Linked DNA regions of Homo sapiens. The protein of the gene in region 1 purifies or fractionates together with the protein of each later gene. This does not show direct contact. Each region holds a gene or a part of one and is shown in the gene's direction. Other genes may lie near its edges.

Region 1 (6,065 bases):
TCGCGAAGAGACGGTACTGATCGCGGGGAAGTGGTGGGCTAAGGGGCCAAGCCAGCGGAGTGGGCGGATAGAAGAAAGGCCCTGCCTCCCCCACCCCACCCCCACCCTCCACCCCCGGCCTCGCTCTGCGAGGTTAGCCCGCTTCGGGAGGTGGAGGCGCTAAATCGAGGTCCCGGAAAGCTTTTCTGGGGCCTGGTTCACAGACACCTGCCTGAGAGAACGGTCCGCGGGGTCTCGCCCTTGTCTCCTTGGGCCTCCCTAGACCTTCGCGGCCCTTCCCTGCTCTGCACAGGTGCAGCTCCGCCAAGGCGCTCACTTCTGTTAAGAGCTTGCTAATTAGCAGCCTGTCTTATTAGCGGCTTCAAACCAACGCAGTAAACACCAAGGCAATGCGGTCCCCTCCGCAGCCCAACCCTTCTTAACCTGGTCTAGCCTGGCCAACCTTCTGTTTTTAAAAAAATTCACTGAAAACAAAAACTCAATCCTCTGTGGCCGTGGGTGTGTTGAGTTGCCCGCTTCTGAGCTTTATGTGGACATTCCTTCCCCGCCCCTCCCCCGATCTGTTTGCAGCGGTGTGGGCCCTGGGCTTGGGACACTGGCTGAGCGAGGAGGGATACGGACCTTCTTTTCACCTCTGCTTCTCTGTAACTGCAGTTGGAGAATTTCCGCCCCAGAGGCGCTGGTGCTGCAAGGAGGCATAGGAGGGTGGAGTGGGGTGGATGCGGTGGGGTGGGGCCAGAGACTCGTGGGATCCTTGGCTTGGATGTTTGGATCTTTCTGAGTTGCCTGTGCCGCGAAAGACAGGTACATTTCTGATTAGGCCTGTGAAGCCTCCTGGAGGACCATCTCATTAAGACGATGGTATTGGAGGGAGAGTCACAGAAAGAACTGTGGCCCCTCCCTCACTGCAAAACGGAAGTGATTTTATTTTAATGGGAGTTGGAATATGTGAGGGCTGCAGGAACCAGTCTCCCTCCTTCTTGGTTGGAAAAGCTGGGGCTGGCCTCAGAGACAGGTTTTTTGGCCCCGCTGGGCTGGGCAGTCTAGTCGACCCTTTGTAGACTGTGCACACCCCTAGAAGAGCAACTACCCCTATACACCAGGCTGGCTCAAGTGAAAGGGGCTCTGGGCTCCAGTCTGGAAAATCTGGTGTCCTGGGGACCTCTGGTCTTGCTTCTCTCCTCCCCTGCACTGGCTCTGGGTGCTTATCTCTGCAGAAGCTTCTCGCTAGCAAACCCACATTCAGCGCCCTGTAGCTGAACACAGCACAAAAAGCCCTAGAGATCAAAAGCATTAGTATGGGCAGTTGAGCGGGAGGTGAATATTTAACGCTTTTGTTCATCAATAACTCGTTGGCTTTGACCTGTCTGAACAAGTCGAGCAATAAGGTGAAATGCAGGTCACAGCGTCTAACAAATATGAAAATGTGTATATTCACCCCGGTCTCCAGCCGGCTCAGCAGGCTCCCCCAATTTGTCTGGATAGAGCCTAGGCCCAGTGTCCCAGGAAGGTGGATACTTGGGAGTCTTTGGCATTCAGGGAAATTGGGGGGACTCTCCTGGGATAAACAGATTCTGCAGCCTCATAGCCCTTGTTAGAACTGGCGCCCCCAAAATCCCTACGAAACAGGTAAAGTGGTGGAAGCAAAGGATGGGGGGATGAGCAAAGTGCCAGGCTTGGAGGGGGAGTATCCCTGCCCCACCCCACCAGGCCCAGGCCCAGGCTTGAAACTAAATTTTGAATTATGTGGGAGGTAGGAAGGGCAATCAAGACAGTTAAAAAAAAATCTAACACCTTCAGCCTACAGTTAGGCACCCAAAAGCCCCACTCGAGCCAGGGCATCCCTGTGCCCCTGAAATCCATCGAGGCTCTGAGTGAGTCTGCGCTCTCCATGCCCTGAACTGAGGGACAAGCACTGCACAGTGCCGAGGCGCTGGGGCGGGTGAAATTTGTGAACTTTTGTACTCTTGTGTGCTGCTGTCGGCAAAGCAAAAATAATGAAAGTTTGTGATATGTTTGTAAATGATTTCGAATGACCCCTCGCCCTGCCCTTCACCATTAGCGCGCCGGCCTCAGCCCAAGGCGGCTCGGTGCCTGTGAGCAGCGCCTGCCTCGGGGTCTGCAGCAGCAGCGGAACGGAGAGGCCAGCCCGGATCAGGGCCCATGAAGGTAAATGCGCGACTTCTTGGAGAAGTAGCTTTGGCAGACAACCTGGCTTGGTCGGGCAGTAGGAAAAGGAGTAGACACAGGATATTCCCCTCTCGCTTCTTTTTCTTCTGCCGCTGAGGGCATTTGTTCCTTTCTGGAAAATACCACTTGGTAAGGAGGAGGGTTATTTGGATCCTGGTGGGGGAGGGTGGTTAATAAAGCCGCCATCCTTGGGATGGATTATTTTTCTTTCTTTCTTTCTTTTTTTCTTTCTTAAGAAGAATATTCTGGTTGTTCGCCTGCTTGGTAACCCTGACCCTGGCAGAAGAATGAGGGAACTCATTGCTTCAAATTGTCGCCAAGCCCATTAGGCTACCTGAACTGTCTCAGAAAGTGCGGGTGGCTGCGTCGAACGGTGGTGGCTCAGAGGAAGAGATTGGGGCCGGCAGCGACCTAGGTACCTCACTCTGGGTGGGACCCAGAGGTTGTAACGTTGTCTATATATACCCTGTAGAACCGAATTTGTGTGGTATCCGTATAGTCACAGATTCGATTCTAGGGGAATATATGGTCGATGCAAAAACTTCACGTTTCTTCGGAATAGCCAGAGACCAAAGTGCGACATGGAGACTAGAAGCAGCCGGCGCTGGTCAGCCGCCTCGTTCTGTTTTATTACCTTGGACTCCAGGAGGATCAGCTGCGCCTGGTGACATAGAGCAGCTTTTCCTCTCCAGAAGCTCCTCACCTTTAAACAGAGTATCCTCTGGGTGCTGAAAAGAAAGAAAGACAGAAAGAGAGAAAGAGAGAGAGAGAGAGAAAGAGAGAATGCAAGCCTAATTGGTTGCATGGATGCAGGGCCAAAGGGCTAGGTTTTGGGGTACTAGGGAGTGAGGTACAAGGCCAGCTTGCCCAGTCCCAGCTCTGCCCTCCAGGAACATGAGGTGCAAAGGTACCCAAATGGGGGCTTGCTTGTATTTGGGGCCTGTGGGAAGAAAGCAAGCTTCAAAGAAGCCCAGTGGGGAGCTCTAGGGTGCATTTTGACAAGGTGGAGGTGCCCTTGCCACCATCCCAGCCCACCCCCAGCTACATGGGCAAGGGCAGCGAGGGCCCCCTGCTATTTTGGCAGGGCCCAGCTTTGGCTGGGAACCCCCGGGCCTGGGCACTGGTAGAAAGCATGGCGGTTACTCATTGCCTAATTTGATTCAAGCTGGCCAGATTCTGGTAACTTTTGGGTGACCCTGATGAAGACAAAGCCAGGACGGCGGCCTTTGTATGGCAGAATCCCTGCTCCCGCCGGCTGCAGGCAGGGCGGGCAGGCAGGAACCCTCCTCGCCTGGGGCACTCTGCCCAACTCAGAGGCGAGTTCACCCACCCACCTTTCATTGCTCTGTACCCCAATAGGAGGATTCATTCTCCCTTGAGCTGTGCCTACTTGGTGTCGGGGGGCGGGGGTTGCATTCAGCTGGGGGTGAGTGGAAGGGCCACGGAAGGTTGGCAAAATCAGTGGCAGACAAAAGCTGGGATTACCTGAGGGGAATGGGGTGCTGGGGACTGGAACTACATTAATATCTGGCAGGGGCTCTCAAATGTGCCATAGCAAGCTACTTGATTACACGTATGTTATTTAGTTAAATTTGTGAAAATTATGAGATGCTCACCAACCCGGTGATAAACTTGCTCCCTCGCCATTGGCTGGCCTGGTCACATGGCTGCCCAACTTTATTCAGTTGACAGCAAGTAGGAGGGCCCTATGGAAGGAGAAAAAAAGACAACACGAGAAAAATTAGTATTTTCTACCTTCTGAAATTAATGGTCATGAGTTCGTATATGGTGAACTCCAAGTATGTGGACCCCAAGTTCCCTCCGTGCGAGGAGTATTTGCAGGGCGGCTACCTAGGCGAGCAGGGCGCCGACTACTACGGCGGCGGCGCGCAGGGCGCAGACTTCCAGCCCCCGGGGCTCTACCCACGGCCCGACTTCGGTGAGCAGCCTTTCGGAGGCAGCGGCCCCGGGCCTGGCTCGGCGCTGCCTGCGCGGGGTCACGGACAAGAGCCAGGCGGCCCCGGCGGTCACTACGCCGCTCCAGGAGAGCCTTGCCCAGCTCCCCCGGCGCCTCCGCCGGCGCCCCTGCCTGGCGCCCGGGCCTACAGTCAGTCCGACCCCAAGCAGCCGCCCTCCGGGACGGCACTCAAGCAGCCGGCCGTGGTCTACCCCTGGATGAAGAAGGTGCACGTGAATTCGGGTAAGGCTAGGGTCCAGTAACCTTTCTGTCCACATCCCAGCCCGTTAGCCTGGGTCCTCTGGAAGGGGGTGCGAGTAGGTGGGGGCGTGTGGAGCTTCCATGGGCGCCGCAATTACTCTCCCCATAAATTTTTATAGCTGAGGGAGCAGGTCAGGACCATGTGGCTGGCTGCTCGGCTGTGGGCGCAAAAGGGGGTGGGGATGGGGGGGTGGGGGAGGACTCCATTTTCAGAGCAGGGGGAAGGCTGTGGAGGAGCGGGGGATTTCCAAAATGCTTGAGGGTTCCGGACCTGGTGGTGGGCCCAGAAGAAGGAGCACATTTGGGGATCCCGCAAGCCTGGGGTATGTGGGTGTGTTTGAGGAGGTGGGTGGGAGTGAGCGTGTGCGCCGGGGAGAGGGCGGGAGGGAGGAAGCAAGCGAGCTTGGGAGCGCGCGGGGAGGGCCGCGGGCCTCGGGGCGCGCCAGGAAGTGAGCGGCGGAGGCGAGGGGCCTAACTAGTGGCCGGGCGCTGACCTGCCTGTCCTGTCTGTTTTGTCTCGCAGTGAACCCCAACTACACCGGTGGGGAACCCAAGCGGTCCCGAACGGCCTACACCCGGCAGCAAGTCCTAGAACTGGAAAAAGAATTTCATTTTAACAGGTATCTGACAAGGCGCCGTCGGATTGAAATCGCTCACACCCTGTGTCTGTCGGAGCGCCAGATCAAGATCTGGTTCCAGAACCGGAGGATGAAGTGGAAAAAAGATCATAAGCTGCCCAACACTAAAGGCAGGTCATCGTCCTCATCTTCCTCCTCATCTTGCTCCTCCTCAGTCGCCCCCAGCCAGCATTTACAGCCGATGGCCAAAGACCACCACACGGACCTGACGACCTTATAGAAGTGGGGACCCTGGGCCCATCTCTCCCTGCGCACCAGGCTGAGCCGAAGCTGCGGGGGCAGGCCGGGCCTGCTGTCACCTCGCTGGGCTCTAAGGTACTGTGGGGTGGACCTGGGACAAGCAGGCCGCCCTCGGACTAGGTTAGCATCCTGCCCGAGGGCAGCCCCCTCCCTAGAGCGGGATGGGGATGGGAGGGGGGGCGGGATTCTCTCTCTAAGTATATTATATGGCAGGAGCTACTGAGAACATAAAATCTTGGCGAGTCATTAAACTTATGAAAATCACCGCTCTTGGATTTTGAATTTGCAAATGAAGGTTGGATGCTTTATCCCACTGTGAATTTGGACATTCTCCCCCACTCCACCCCTCCAGGGTGCTTTGTGGCTTAATAATGTGGGGGAGTTGAGGCAGAAGGTTGGCCACCCCTGTGCTAGGTGCTTTCAGTGGAAGCCAGAGAGCTGGGTCAGGATTTCTGGACTTTCTGGGTTGTCTATGGAATTTCATGTGATTAAAAAATATATATTTTGCTCCCAGTGGCCCCACCTCCAAAGAAATGGGTCTAAGAAGGAAGTAAAAATGGGTTATTTTATGTTTAGATATTTGCTTAAATATTTATTTGTTGGGAAATGTGGTACAGAAATAACTGACACCTTCATGCCAAAAATCTTAAAAAGGTGAAAGGGGCTGAACTTCAGGGAGCAGAATCAGAGATATGTGCACTTACTTCTGAACTCCACCCCTCCCCACTCTCTGGAAATGTATATAGGGGGGCCTTAACCCTTCCAGAAGGAAGCAAAGG
Region 2 (7,087 bases), on another chromosome or scaffold:
TTTATTGTCACCCCCATCCCTGCAAACCCAATATATAGTGGTAACTCAGGGACAGATAACTATAATACATTCTCTCATTCAGAAAAAAAATGTGATACTGAGCAATACTATTCATGTATAATAATGATGAAATACTGCATAAACATTTTGCGGCCCATCTCCTTGAAACTGAAGAAAGTTCTGATGAAACTCCAATTCTAGTCTTCAGGAGAAACTCCCTGTCCAGTCTTTAGTACAGCTCCTTATACGAGCTTCTGAAATGTTCTTTTTTTGTCCATCATTCTCCATGGCCACATCCTGTGTGGGTACTGGGGAGCTGTTAAGGTTTTATGCTCTATTTTTCTACTTATGCAAGCTTGGGGTTGGACAGTTACCCTCTGTTTTAACACCCGAACAATGATATTTGAGCCAGATTTAGTATGATTAATAAAATTCCTCTAAAAATGTAGTCTTCTGATTGATTTGCTTCTGGTAACTACACCCAAAGTTCTTTCTTACATAATTATCAAGCCTAATTTACTGCTTTGCTGCCTTGCTCCTATGCCAGTTCCTTTAGACCTTTATCGTAGCTATCTTGAAGCCATCTAAAATAATGACTTTGAATGGAAAGACCAAACCCTTTTCCTGATCTTTGTTGCAGGACTTAATCTCAAGGGTAACTATACTCAAGACCTCTTCTAGTTTTTTTTTTTTTTTTATTAGAAGTCTTATAAAAGTCAACTTTTCCAACCCTTCCTGAGAAATATTCCTGTACACTCTCACTTCTGTGAAGTATTTCCTGAGTTTCTCTCTTTAGTAAAACCTTACTAAAAGTAAAATGTAAAATTCAACACAGTATTACTTTTGCTCTTTTCAATCATTTCCTCTGGAGCTAATCTAAACAGATAGGTGATCTGATTTTGAATTATTTCAGGTGACAGTTTTACTAATTACTTTGCCACTGCAAACATGGGCCTCCTTTTTCTAGCCTCCAAATCACATTCTCTACCACCTGCTGCATCATAAATAAGCTGATGTAACATATTTTAGGTTATTGTTTTAGCAGTACTCCACTTCTTGTACCAATTTCTGGACTAGCTATGGTCATTCTAGCTCCTATACATATAAATTCTCAAATCTCAATTTTTTCTCTTACAGTAAGTGCAAAAAGGGGTGTTTCTAATTGGGGTGGCTGTCTTCCAAGTACTGTTTCAGCCACTCATTCTTCTCTTTTCTGGCTTTGGCATCTCCAATACATAGTTTTGAAGGTCACCATGCTCAAAGGCATCAAGTTGACGAAGAAAGAGTAAGGGAGAATAGGAGGACTTCATTAACCCTAAAAATGAGCACATCATTTCCATTCATATTTAATTGGCTAGAAGTTAATCACGGCCAGGCTCGGTGGCTCACGCCCGTAATCCCAGCACTTTGAAAGCCGAGGTGGGGGAATCACCTGAGGTCGGGAGTTCGAGACCAGCCTGACCAACATGGAGAAACCGTGTCTCTACTAAAAATACAAAATTAGCCGGGTGTGATGGCACATGCCTGTAATCCCAGCTACTTGGGAGGCTGAGGCAGGAGAATCGCTTGAACACGGGAGGCGGAGGTTGCGGTGAGCTGAGATTGTGCCATTGCATTCCAGCCTGAGCAACAAGAGCTAAACTCTGTCTCAAAAAAAGAAGTTCATCACATGACTATAACCAACTACAAGGAAAGCTGTGAAATTTAGTTTAGCTGTGTGCCCGGGAAGAAGAAATAAGTTTCATGGGCTAGTCAGTCCCTGCCAGAGGTTCTAACGGGGGGAAAAAAAGATAAAAATAAAAGAAAGTGACTTTACATGCCTTGTCCATTTTAATAGTTTTGAACCTTATCCTACTAGTGAAACAGGATCATCATTTCACTATTATATTAAAGAACAAAAAACTCATTTTCTTCCAAACAATGAGATTACTTTAAAGAGAGCATTTTTGGTAGCACAGCACGATAGACACAGAGACTAGACTGCAGAGGGCTGACAAGTCAATTTCAGAAAACAAAAAAGACACTGATTGTAGACACTTTTTTTTTGAGATGGAGTCTCGCTCTGTCGCCCAAGCTAGAGTGCAGTAGCAGGATCTCAGCTCACTGCAAACTCCGCCTCGCAGGTTCAAGCGATTCTCCTGCTTCAGCCTCCTGAGTATAGAATACTTTTTAAAGAAAGAAAGTTTGCTTGTGAAGGAAATAATTGAAAGCTACAGAAGAATTAGCTAAGGAACCAGAATTTGTAGAAGGTTGACAACAGAAAAGATAATAAATGCATGAGAAAGAGGGGTATTGGAACTAGAATATGTATGAAGAGTTTATCTCATATATGAACAGGGAGTCTCTCATTCGTTGATACTGGAGAAAAGGCAATCTCAGGAAATTTCTAGCACTTGGAAAATTGTGAAGTCTAAGTTAAAAGTCATATAATAAAATGGGCTGGGATTTAAAGATTGCGAAAAGTATTCAAGTGGAAAGGGAGAAAAAGATGCTGAAGAATATACAAAGTAGGAGGGAGGGATGCAGCTGAAATTATAAAATCTAAATCAGTAGTGGTGAGATACACAATGCAGTGCTCTGTTCTACACTGGAACTCAGCAACGACTGTAGGAGAGGAATAGGCAGATGGTTACCACTCCGTATATATATTTACTATAGCACTTATTACACTGTAAAGCCCCTGGAAACAAGAGACTTTGATTCCACAAATTATGCGCACAGTAGGCACATGATGAATTTTTGTTTGAATGAATTGATTTAGTCATTGCCAATTCTGCCTTGGTACTCTGTAGAGTACTGGCAACTGCCCACATTTCATATGGTATGCCAATGCTAAAAAGAAAAAAAATGCTAAAAAAAAAAAAAATCCAGGCATATTCAGCTAAACTAAGCAGTCTTAAAATGGCAACTATGTCAGCTGAGACATACTTTTAATCTTGTGCCAGTACATCTGTCTTTGATGTTTGCTTCATTTTCCGTATGCCACTATACTCCTACTAGACCAGAAAGGGATAATTCTGAGTTCAATGGGCTCCACTATCATTTCAAAAGTCCTGAAACTTCTTCAGACACCTAAAAATGAACCCACAACTCCCATAACAGCATTCCTTCCGAGAGAAGTATACAGACAACAATCACTATTTATGCTTGCTTCCAAGCTGAATCGAAGAGGGCCGGAAGAGCTAAATCAGGGTCATTCAGTGAATCGTCTACAAAGTCTGGCACAGACCACGCATCCTTCCCGTGTCTTCCTCCCCTTGGAAACTTGAGGTGTAAGTAATGATCTTAGACATCTCCTAATCGACTGCCTTCATATTACACACGTGTAAACTCAGGTAGAGGATGTCTATGAGCCGAGCTTAAACTCAGGTAAAGAAGGCTCTTTTCCCAACACGACGCCATCTCTCATGATCCAAAGCTCTATCTCTCGATTTGGCGGTGGAAAAAAATGACCAGGAATAAAACTACGTACAGCAGTCCAGAACGAGGCCCCACCTCCCGGATCTGGCGGACCGGCCTCCCGTCAGCAAAGTGTCTGGACCGCGCTTCCGCACCTCACACTGCCCGGGGCCGGCTCCTCTCCAGCCTCCCCGTACTCCCCACACGCCGCAGCACTGCGCGCCCGCGGGGCCCCAGACCCGGCCCTTGAAATCTCACTTTCGCCTTTCGGCCACCCGCGCGCCACGGCTCAGGCGACGGCTGATGGCGTCACTGCACTTCCGCCTGCGGCTGCGTTCTAATCACAAGCCAGGAAGGAAGAAGGGAGGGCTGCAGGGCTGTGTGTGCGGGAAATAGCGAGGAAAGAGAAGAAATCCGGGAGCTCGCGGGCGCTCTGGTTGCAATCGCGCCCCCCTCATCTGTCCCCGCCGTTCCCCTTCGGAAGCTGCCCCAGGCACACTTCCCCGCTTCTTTCCAGTCTCCTCTCCTCTGGTTCTCCCGACACCCGGTCTCCCTGTTACGCCTCACCCTCCTTCCCTTGCTCCCTCCCTCTCCCTCCCTCCCTCCCTCCCATCGTCAGGCTCCCCGCCCTTAGTATCGCGAGACGAGGTGAGAGCTGGCGGAGCGGCGGCGGCGGCGGCGGCAGTAGAGGTGACCGAGGCGGTGGCGGCGGAGGCGGCACCGATTGCTGTGTCGGCCCCAGTGCGGCCGAAGTCGCGGTAGAGCGTAGCCCCACGCCCCTCCCCCGTCCGCGCCCTCCCTCTTTCCCTGGGGATGGAGAAGGCGACGGTTCCGGTGGCGGCGGCGACGGCTGCAGAAGGAGAAGGGAGCCCCCCGGCGGTGGCGGCTGTGGCGGGCCCCCCCGCGGCGGCGGAGGTCGGCGGCGGCGTTGGCGGCAGCAGCAGAGCTCGCTCGGCCTCGTCTCCTCGTGGGATGGTGCGAGTCTGCGACCTGCTCCTGAAGAAGAAGCCGCCGCAGCAGCAGCACCACAAGGCCAAGCGTAACCGGACTTGCCGACCCCCCAGCAGCAGCGAAAGCAGCAGCGACAGCGACAACAGCGGCGGCGGTGGAGGCGGCGGTGGAGGCGGAGGTGGCGGCGGCGGCACCAGCAGTAACAACAGCGAGGAAGAAGAGGACGACGACGACGAGGAAGAGGAGGTTTCTGAGGCAAGGGCCTGGTTTCAAAGGAAGGAGGGAGGAAGGGACTGTAAGGGATAGGGGCCGAAGGTGGGAGGGGATTTGGAGTGGGACAGATTCCAGTGGGTTGATCTCTTAGGGGCCAGGCTTTCGACTGCCCCCTTTCTTCCCTCGGCCTAAATCGTGAGGTGTGGGAATGTGGGGGAGGGTAGCTGACACGTGGGGGTGGGAGGACCACGGAGTTCACAGAGTTGGTGAACAGCCTGTTATCATGGGATGGCTCACTTGGTTAAGGATGGAGGGAATTGGTTAGATTCCCTGTTTGCACGCCGGGGGGTGGGGGGGTGGTCTGCCTGGGGCCAGTAGGGCCACCTTAGTCTGAGGCGGGATCGGGATCAAAGCGGGAGGAGTAAAATAATGGGTAAATGAGTCTCTTGGGGACCAACTAGGAGGTTGATCAACTTCTCCCAGTTGTGAGGTGGAGGGGAGCAGTTTGAGGGGGGACGTAAGGTTGTAATGGACTCAGAGCTAAGTGTTTGTGTATGTGAGGGACACGTGAGAAGCTGTACTTTTCCATACTGTTCTGCAGGGTTTTTCGTAACTATCCTGGCTGCTGAAGTAACTTCATTTCCTCGATCTCCCAGGGATTTTCGATGAACTGATGCTGTATTTGTATAAATTTATCAGTAACTTTAAATAATTACAAATGACCATATACATTTGTAAGTGGATGAAAAATATATTTGATCCTTACACGTACATACATACATGCCTTCGAATGTTTCCTTAGTGAGTTAGAATTAAGCTAGGACCTGTTGTCCCGTAATATGGGACAGCCAAAGGGTAGGCTTTGGAGCCAGGCCTGGTTGTGGTGAGTTGGAATAGGAAGGCCTCTCGGTTTGTCCTAGTGATCTGGTTTCATAATAACTTTATAATTTTTCCTGGGTCCACAGACAGGCGGCGTTGCAGGACCTTATTCCTCACAGAAGCCCTTACAACCCAAAGGCTCAGTAAAACATACCATACTGACAACCAACTGAGAGTTAGCTTTACTAGTTATTAGCTGTTTTACCACTCTCTTGTCTCCTTCCTGAAATAGAATCTAGAAAAATCTTTATTTGGAGAGGGAAATCTTTATCAGCAGAGGGAAAACAGCTTTAAAGGCTGATTTTAAACTTAGTTCTAAGAGGAGACCAAGTGATTCATCTAAAAGTACCACTTACTATTTATTCTCTTCCACAAACATGGAACTTATTTTGATGCAAGTCTGGTTTTCCGAAAATTGGAATTATTGAATCCTGGTCTCTGTTGAAATAGAGAAGTACCTTTTAAAGGATTTGACACATGTCTATTTGTAGAAGACCAGATTCTCTTTTATCTCAGACTGGATGAAGTTGTATAGGTAGAGATATTAAGTGCTGAAGTATGTATGACAAAAATATGCCAGTCCTTGTTTTTATTCCCTTTTAGCCTGTTGGATTCTGAGAATAGGTTTGTATTGATAGACTTATATTGGCCTACTTGGATGTTTAGGATAGTGTGTTGCTCTGGCGGCATTTGAAACAAGGAAGAGAAAGATGTAATGGGGTCCTTATCCCTAATAAAATTTGTTATGGTACTTAGAATCATTCAATTGTATGATTCTTCTCAAAGGTGAGAAACATTTTACAGGTAATTCAGCCCTTTATTTTAAAAAGGAGGAAAACAAGGTTTAGAGGAAAGTGGTTGTGGTGGGTAGTAGCAAAAGTACAAATCAAAGTTTTCTAATGTCTCAGACCTGTACACTTTTTAATAATAATTTATTTCCTTTTATCACCCTCCTGATATCATTCAGAAAAATAGTTACTGAATAGCAAGGTAACACAATCATGCAGCTATAGGCAAAATACCATTACTTAAAATTTTAAATTCTCGTGAAACTATTAAGCTCTGGTTTAGAGCAAGGTTATGATAGTTGAATGCAGTACTTACTGGGATATTCTGCTGCAAACTTAACATACCTAGGTAGTTTTGTCCATTGGAATGCGGCCTAATAAGCAGAACTTTTAGTAATTCCTTAAATCATGAAGAATGGCTGTAAGTTTGTAGGTATGTTTATTTTGTGGGTCAGGTTTGTTTTCCTTTTGTAATATAGGAATGGTTATGTTGACTTTCACCAACTATGGTAGTATTTCTATGTTTTTAACATACCTTATCCTGTCTTTTACATGGTGTTAAACAATGGGTTTGTCATTTATGAAGATGAGTCAGGAGAAATACGTGTAAGAAAGTGTGCCCATTGGCCGGGCGTGGTAGCTCACGCCTGTAATCCCAGCACTTTGGGAGACCGAGGCGGGCGGATCACCTGAGGTCAGGAGTTTGAGACCAGCCTGGCCAACATGGTGAAACCCCATCTCTACTAAAAATACAAAAAAATTAGCCGAGTGTGGTGGCAGATGCCTGTAATCTCAGCTACTTGGGAGGCTGAGGCAGGAGAATTGCTTGAACCCGGGAGGTGGAGGTTGCAGTGAGC
Region 3 (7,660 bases), on another chromosome or scaffold:
AAGTGCTGGGATTACAGGTGTGAGCCACCGTGCCCGGCCATGTGTTTTTTATCCTTCTTGATCTGAAAGATGGTCAAAACACAGTGCTTTGAAACACATTATAAGTAGATTCTAAATAGTCCCACTGGCTTTTTTTTCTTCTTTATTCCATAGAGACTCAAAATTCCCAATGCTTACTATATTTCAAGGCCATGGCAGGTTATTGGGAAAAGTTTTCAATTAGCAATAATGATGCCTTTGGCTATGATACTGCCACTGAGCAAATCTCCACTCCATTTTTTTTCTTGAGACAGAGTCTCGCTCTGTCACCCAGGCTGGAGTGCAATGGCGTGTTCTCAGCTCACTGCAACCTCTGCCTCCCAGATTCAAGCGATTCTCCTGACTCAGCCTCCTGAGTAGCTGGGATTACAGGTGCGTGCCACCACGCCCAGCTAATTTTTGTATTTTTAGTAGAAATGGGGTTTCGCCATGTTGATCAGGCTGGTCTCGAACTCCTGACCTTGTGATCCACCCGCCTCAGCCTCCCAAAGTGCTGGGATTACAGGCATGAGACCCCACACCCAGCCCAATTTTTGTATTTTTAGTAGAGACAGGATTTCACCATGTTGGCCAGGATGGTCTTGAACTCCTGACCTCAAGTGATCCACCCACCTCAGCCTCCCAAAGTGCTGGTATTACAGGCATGAGCCACCATACCTGGCCTGAGTGTGATTTTATTTATTTGTCAAATGTATCACTTGATATTGTGATGATTTATCAATGAGTTTTCAAATTTTAAAACCATAGGAATGTAGTATATATGGAACTATTGAATCACATTTTCTTTCTTTCTTTTTTTTTTTTTTTCGAGACAAAGTTTCACTCATGTTGCCCAGGCTGAAGTGCCGTGGTGTGATCTTGGCTCACTGAAACCTCTGCCTCCCAGGTGCAAGCAATTCTCCCGCCTCAGCCTCCTGAGTAGCTGGGATTATAGGCGCCCACCACCACGCCTGGCTAATTTTTTGTATTTTTAGTAGAGACGGGGTTTCATCATGTTGGCCAGGCTGGTCTGGAACTCCTGACCTCGGGTGATCCACCCACCTTGGCCTCCCAAAGTACTGGGATTACAGGCGTGAGCCACCATGCCCAGCCATTAAATCACATTTAATAGAGATTCTATATAGCAGTCACCAAAATATAGGAGACTAGGAGTTCCTAATTCCCATACTGACTGTCAAACTACTGACAAGTATCTCAAGTAAAGGTCCTGGTGAAACAAAGATTATTGCTCAATCACATTTCTTTAGCTATACTCAGGGTTAGTTGCTAGGCACTGAGTAAAGAGAGTGTTTTCTTCCCTCTCAAATAAATTGAGAAAAATGTATATATATCCAGATTTCCTTTCCCTGTGTCCTTGAGAGTCATTGTATTTGTTTAAAGAATTTAATGAGTTTGTTCAGGGAGTTGCATCAGAAATTATTTTTGTATCAGTAGTAAGCATGACAACTAGTTCCTTTGTAATGCTGTACCAGTCAATACCTGTTTTTGCCTAAGGATGTATCCATACCAATTCTGGATAATCCAGCTTTGAAGTGGGTTGGGCAGTGCCAGGTTTCTTTTGTTGGTGTTATTAGTTTGGGTTGTGACTTAGTCACACATGCCTTGAAAACTTAACAGCACTGAGGATATAGGCTAATTAAGTTCCACAAATGCTAACTAAAGCCAGTGTACATAGCATTTACATTAAAATAGTTCTCTAGAATAGGTACAAGACTTTTTTTTAACATTTTCTACAACTTATTTATTATCTAGAAAGAACATTTAACAAACATGTTCTGCTCATAGAAAACACTATCCTTTACATGTGAAATGTCAAAATGAGCAATTACTAAGCCAAAGAAATGTTTATGATATTCAAAATGTTTTTTAAATAAATGTTTGGCAGAATCAACTTTTAAAGTTATTTTAAAAATCATTATATTCTTATAAAATTTTAAGATCCCAGTTTAAGGATGACGAAATATTAAATATTGCACAGTTGAGATATATAAAGGCCTTTGTTAAAGTTGTAAGAGAGGAGAAAATGACTTTTTTTTTTTTTTTTTGAGACTGAGTCTTGCTCTGTCGCCAGGCTGCAGTGCAGTGGTGCGATCTCGGCTCACTGCAACCTCCGCCTCCTGGGTTCAAGCGATTCTCTTGCCTCAGCCACCCGAGTAGCTGGGATTACAGGCACGCGCCGCCACACTTGGCTAATTTTTGTATTTTTAGTAGAGACGGGGTTTCACCATGTTGGCCAGGATGGTCTCCATCTCCTGACCTCGTGATCCGCTCACCTCTGCCTCCCAAGGTGCTGGGATTACAGGTGTGAGCCACTGCGCCCGGCCATTTTTTTTTTTTTCAGCCAAATTCTGTTATCATATGGACATTCTCTGGGTCAAAGGATATTTTCCATACAAACCACCAGACTCCTTTTTTGGTCATGTCTGATTAAAGGATTAGATAGAAACCGTTTTTTTTTTATTTTTTTAATTTTTTTAGACAGGGCACCGCTCTGTTGCTCAGGCTGGAGTTCAGTGGCACGATCTCGGCTCACTGCAACCTCCATCTCCCAGGCTCAGGGGATCCCTCCCACCTCAGCCTCCTGAGTAGCTGGAATTACAGGCATGCACCACCATGCTCGGCTAATTTTTTTTTTTTTTTTGAGACGATGTGTTGCTCTGTCGCCTAACCTGGAGTGCAGTGGCACGATCTTGGCTCACTGCAAACTTCGCCTCCTGGGTTCAAGTGATTCTCCTGCCTCAGCCTCCCGAGTAGCTGGGATTACAGGCACGCACCATCACATCTGGCTAATTTTTGTATTTTTAGTATAGACGGGGTTTCGCCATGTTGGCCAGGCTGGTCTAGAACTCCTAACCTCAAATGATCCGCCCACCTAGGCCTCCCAAAGTGCTGGGATTAACAGGCGTGAGTCACCGCGCCGAGCCCAATTTTTGTATTTTTGGTAAAGACGGGATTTCACCATGTTGCCTAGGCTGGGCTCGAACTACTGGGTTCAAATGATCCGCCCGCCTCAACATCCCATAGTGTTGGGATTACAGGCGTGAGCCACGGCGCCCGCTATAGAATCTGAATATTTTTAACCCCCCTCTTTACTGACAAGATAAAGACAGAGATAGAGAGATGCATATAGGGAGGAAGAGATCTCCTTAGAGGAGGGAAGACCACCACAGCTAGCCTTGTTTTGCACCACACAGATCTGATTAGAACTAGAATTAGTTGGGCTGGCAGGACCCAGGGGCGAGCAGAGAGTTCCTGAAGGAAGAGGAGACAATAACTAGCAAAAATGAGTCTTTCCTGTAAGTTTGGGACTTTGCTAAGCGCTATATTATCATCTAATTTATTCATAACAACAACCCAATGAGGAAGGTACTAATATTACTCCCATTTCACAGAGGAGCGAGTTGAAAGTCACAAAAATGAAACAGCAAACGCGCCGAAGTCAGGCAGCAAGTAAGTGGCAGCACCAGAACTCGAAACTGCCTCGGAGCATGCACTCTTCACCACCCCGTTCCACCTTGAGGTCGGATTCCGCACGCCGTTCGCGGCATTCCCACCTTCCTACGTGGGACAGTTCCCGGTACTGAGGCATGGCGCTGTCCAGCCCTCAGGCCCGCAGCCGTCCGCAAGCAGGAGAACGCGGCCCCGCTGGGCGATCCTGCCCGAAGGCGCCCGAACTGCGGCGCGCGGCCGGGTCCTGGCGGGCGGGTCGAGTCTCCCCAAGGCGGCCATCCCAAGCAGCTCCCCGGATGTCCCTCAGACCCGCGCGCTAGGCTCAACTCAGAAAGGCGGGAGGCGCGAAGCGAGATCGGCCTTGCCCCTCGACTGTCCCCTCATCGCTCCCCGTCCTCTATTCCCTCCCAAATAGCCCCCGGCAAATAGGTTACACATCTTCACCTGTCCCAGAGGTGGTGACTGCTCTAGTGACTGACGCTACGCTCCTCCAACCAGGCAATGGCAGGAAGGTGGAGCCTTCCTAAGACTGATGGCTTCCTTTCTCCAATCCCGGTGCAGCTATTCTCCGGCCATAGTCTCGGCGCCCAGCGGAGAGCGACAGGTGGGAGCTGCGTTACTTCGGCGCCTCTTGCATCCTTGACGTAGAAGTTTCACCAAGCGCAGGGTGAAGTCTACTCCAAATTTGACCAATTCTTGCGGGTCATCACTTCAGCAGTCATTTTATTCAGAAGTGGAAATTTCCCGGCCCTTTCCCGTCACCTCAGATGAGGGCGGGATCAATGGTACTCCCACAGGCCAATTGTACCACGCGACGTCCCGCGACAAAGTGACCGACACTTTATGGCGCCAATGAATTCTCCCATTGTTCGGGGTCACTATGACTGACCACAAGGCCAACTAATCCACTTTAAGGTCGTGACGCGATAGTCAGGCGGGTTGGCCAATAGACATAGGAAAAGAGCGGAAGTCAGCTGGTGAAGAGTGGGAGGCGGGTGTTCGCAACCGCCTAGGCCTGCGCGGGTCAACGCAGCTTGGCGGCTGCGAGCCAGCGAGCGGCGCGTGACGAAGAGCCTGAGCGACGGGTCACTTTGGCCAATGATCTGCAGCCGCCAGGGTATTGCAGCCAGTGGCGAGTCGAGGGGGCGGGAGGCAGCAGGTTAGGCAGTGAGAAGTTAGTGGCGCTGCTGGGACGGGGGAAAGGAGACGCTTCTTCCTCTTGCTGCTCTTCTCGTTCCCGAGATCAGCGGCGGCGGTGACCGCGAGTGGGTCGGCACCGTCTCCGGCTCCGGGTGCGAACAATGCTGACTGATAGCGGAGGCGGCGGCACCTCCTTTGAGGAGGACCTGGACTCTGTGGCTCCGCGATCCGCCCCAGCTGGGGCCTCGGAGCCGCCTCCGCCGGGAGGGGTCGGTCTGGGGATCCGCACCGTGAGGCTCTTTGGGGAGGCCGGGCCAGCGTCGGGAGTCGGCAGCAGCGGCGGCGGCGGCAGCGGCAGCGGTACGGGCGGAGGGGACGCGGCGCTGGATTTCAAGTTGGCGGCTGCCGTGCTGAGGACCGGGGGTGGAGGTGGTGCCTCTGGCAGTGACGAGGACGAAGTGTCCGAGGTAAGGCTCCGGGACCCTCGCCTCCCACACATTGTGAGGCGTGAATTCTCTTTGGGTAGGCTCTGGGCCGGGGCCATCCTCCCGCTTCCCTGGTGGAGCCCTTCTGTGACAGCGGTCGGCTCCATGGCGGCGGTGGCCGCGGTGAGGGCCTAGTGAGCCCTCGGCTTACTCTTTAGCTCGAGCGGGACAGGTTCCCGTCACCATTCGTAGACCCACAATAGGGAGTCCTTTGGTCTCTGAGCTTCGCGCGGGAACAGGGACTCCTCAGGCTGCCTCCCGCCCACCCTGCTTTGGAGTTGGGGGTGGGGGGCGGGGTCTTGCCAGAGTCCCTGCCCTTGGTACTGAGAGAGACAAACAGAGACAGAGACAGAGCTGGTGCAAAGATCGTTTCTCTTCTTTGCCTCTCCTCAGAGTTGAGGGATACGTTTATTTGCCTTCTGCCTTGTGTGTGTCTTACCTGTGTGCTTAAGGACGGTTCTTATTCTCCCTCTTCAGTTTGAGACAGGTTTGAGTATTAGGGATCTCTCGGCTTTTACCCTGAAAAATCACGTGACTCCTCCTTCTGGGACCTTTTGTGAAGTTAGACAGGAAAAGGAAGTTCCAGGGCATCCCTGAGCTTCGGAATAGCTGGGTAGCTGAACTCGGAGGTTTTAGGCTTGGAGAAAGTGGGGCAACCTGTGGAAACCTCTTCTTTTTTTTTTTTTTTTTTTTTTTTTTGAGATGGAGTTTCGCTCTTGTTGTCCACGCTAGAATACACGTGATCTCAGCTCACTGCAACCTCCGCCTCCCGGGTTCAAGCGATTCTCCTGCCTCAGCCTCCCGAGTAGCTGGGATTACAGGCGTGCGCCACCACGCCCGACTAATTTTGTATTTTTATTAGATACGGGGTTTCACCATGTTGGTCAGGCTGGTCTCGAACTCCTGACCTCAGGTGATCCGCCCGCCTCGGCCTCCCAAAGTGCTGGGATTACAGGTATGAGCCACCGTGCCCGGCTGGACACCTTCACTCTGCCTTTGCAGTGAAGTCCTTCATTTCTTTAACTCTTCTGTGTGTACTCTAATGTGTACACATTTTTAGGTCTGAGCAACCTGGGATGGTAGGCATTAACTTCTTTTGGGTTCTGGGGAAAAAGGGGCGGGTTTTGTTTTTGTTTTTTGAGATGGAGTTTCGCTCTGTCGCCAGGCTGGAGTGCAGTGGCGCGATCTCGGCACACTGCAACCTCCGCCTCCTGGGTTCAAGCGATTCCCCTGCCTTAGCCTCCTGAGTAGCTGGGACTACAGGCGCGTGCCACCACTCCCGGCTAATATTTTGTATTTTTTAGTAAAGACAGGGTTTCACCATGTCCAGGATGGTCTCGATCTCCTGACCTTGTGATCCCAAGGGGCGGTATTTTATGTGTATACTTTTTTCTGTTGACTGTGGCTTGCGTAGAGTACTGTACCGTGATTGTTTTAAGTGCTCAGAGTATTTCTTCTATTTTGGTTCTGAGGTGCCTGAGTTGTCACCTGTGACCAGTTATTTTAACCTCTGGTCTTGGTGTTAAAGTACAGGAATTTCTCTGTGTGTACTAACAATCCCGGCTCTTGGATTTGAGAGGAATAAGGAGAAATTATTTGTGGGTTACAGACTGCAGTTAGTATACTGTCTTATCATTCTAGGTCTGAACAGGGTTTTATTTAATATTTAAAACCTTAGTACATTCTGACCCTAACATTTTGCTTTGGAAAAAAAAGTGTGTGGGTTATAAGGCGGGTAGTCCCTTGAATGTCTACGTCTTTGAATTTCACGGTAAGGGAAATAACTTCTAAGCCAAGGTGAGAGAAATGTTTTATTTGAGTAGGCAGTTATGGGGAGAGACTCTGGAGTATCCCTGCTCTTGGTCTTGTGGAAGGCTTTATTTTATCCTTTCAGTGAAACGTGAGAGATTAAGCTAGAACACAGTACTTTTTAGCTAGGAAATGAAGTGTGGGGGATATCCTTAGACTAAAGATTAGAGCTTATTTTCTATGAAACTTGTAAATGAGAATCTGAAAGAGTTTGCTTTGGTCTAAATGTGATAGAAAAAGGGGACCTTGATTTTCTTGACCATTTTTACATAATTGTCATGGGTGAGATGAAAGGTCACTCATTTGCCTTTTTTTTTAATTTTAATTTTTTGTTTTTTTTGTTTTTTTTGAGACTGTGTCTTGCTCTTGTCACCCAGGCTGGAGTGCGGTGGCTCGATCTTGGCTCACTGCAACCCCCGTCTCCCAGGTTCAAGCTATTTTCCTGCCTCAGCCTCCCTAGTAACTGGGATTCCAGGTGCCTGCTACCACGACTGGCTAATTTTTTTGTATTTTTAGTAGAGACGAGGTTTTACCATGTTGGCCAGGTGGGTCTCAAACTCCTGACCTCAGGTGATCGCCCTCTCAGAGTGCTGGGATTACAGGCATGAGCCACCACGCCCGGCCTTAATTTTTTTTTTTTTTTTGAGACAGGTTTTGCTATGTTGTCCAGGCTAGCCTCAAACTCCTGGGCTCGGGTGGTCCTCCTACCTCAGCCTCCTAAGTAGCTGGGACTATAG

Evidence for each region. The genes of interacting proteins can lie anywhere in the genome.
Region 2: the proteins of HOXD4 (region 1) and ANKRD17 purify together in Homo sapiens (co-immunoprecipitation; 3 studies listed by BioGRID and IntAct, with this or other methods). This does not show direct contact.
Region 3: the proteins of HOXD4 (region 1) and ANKHD1 purify together in Homo sapiens (affinity purification with mass spectrometry, with the first as the bait; 2 studies listed by BioGRID). This does not show direct contact.

Annotation. Positions count from the first base shown.
Region 1 is NC_000002.12:176,147,677-176,153,741, forward strand, and holds HOXD4 (homeobox protein Hox-D4), read left to right. Parts: upstream 1-3,873; 5' UTR 3,874-3,957; coding exon 3,958-4,390; intron 4,391-4,852; exon of another isoform or gene 4,853-4,931; coding exon 4,932-5,266; 3' UTR 5,267-5,550; downstream 5,551-6,065. UniProt on the Homo sapiens protein: Sequence-specific transcription factor which is part of a developmental regulatory system that provides cells with specific positional identities on the anterior-posterior axis.
Region 2 is NC_000004.12:73,255,794-73,262,880, reverse strand, and holds the start of ANKRD17 (ankyrin repeat domain-containing protein 17), read left to right. Parts: upstream 1-4,082; 5' UTR 4,083-4,212; coding exon 4,213-4,605; intron 4,606-7,087.
Region 3 is NC_000005.10:140,397,178-140,404,837, forward strand, and holds the start of ANKHD1 (ankyrin repeat and KH domain-containing protein 1), read left to right. Parts: upstream 1-4,655; 5' UTR 4,656-4,790; coding exon 4,791-5,096; intron 5,097-7,660. Other genes in the region: ANKHD1-EIF4EBP3 protein, read left to right, coding at 4,791-5,096. UniProt on the Homo sapiens protein: May play a role as a scaffolding protein that may be associated with the abnormal phenotype of leukemia cells. Isoform 2 may possess an antiapoptotic effect and protect cells during normal cell survival through its regulation of caspases.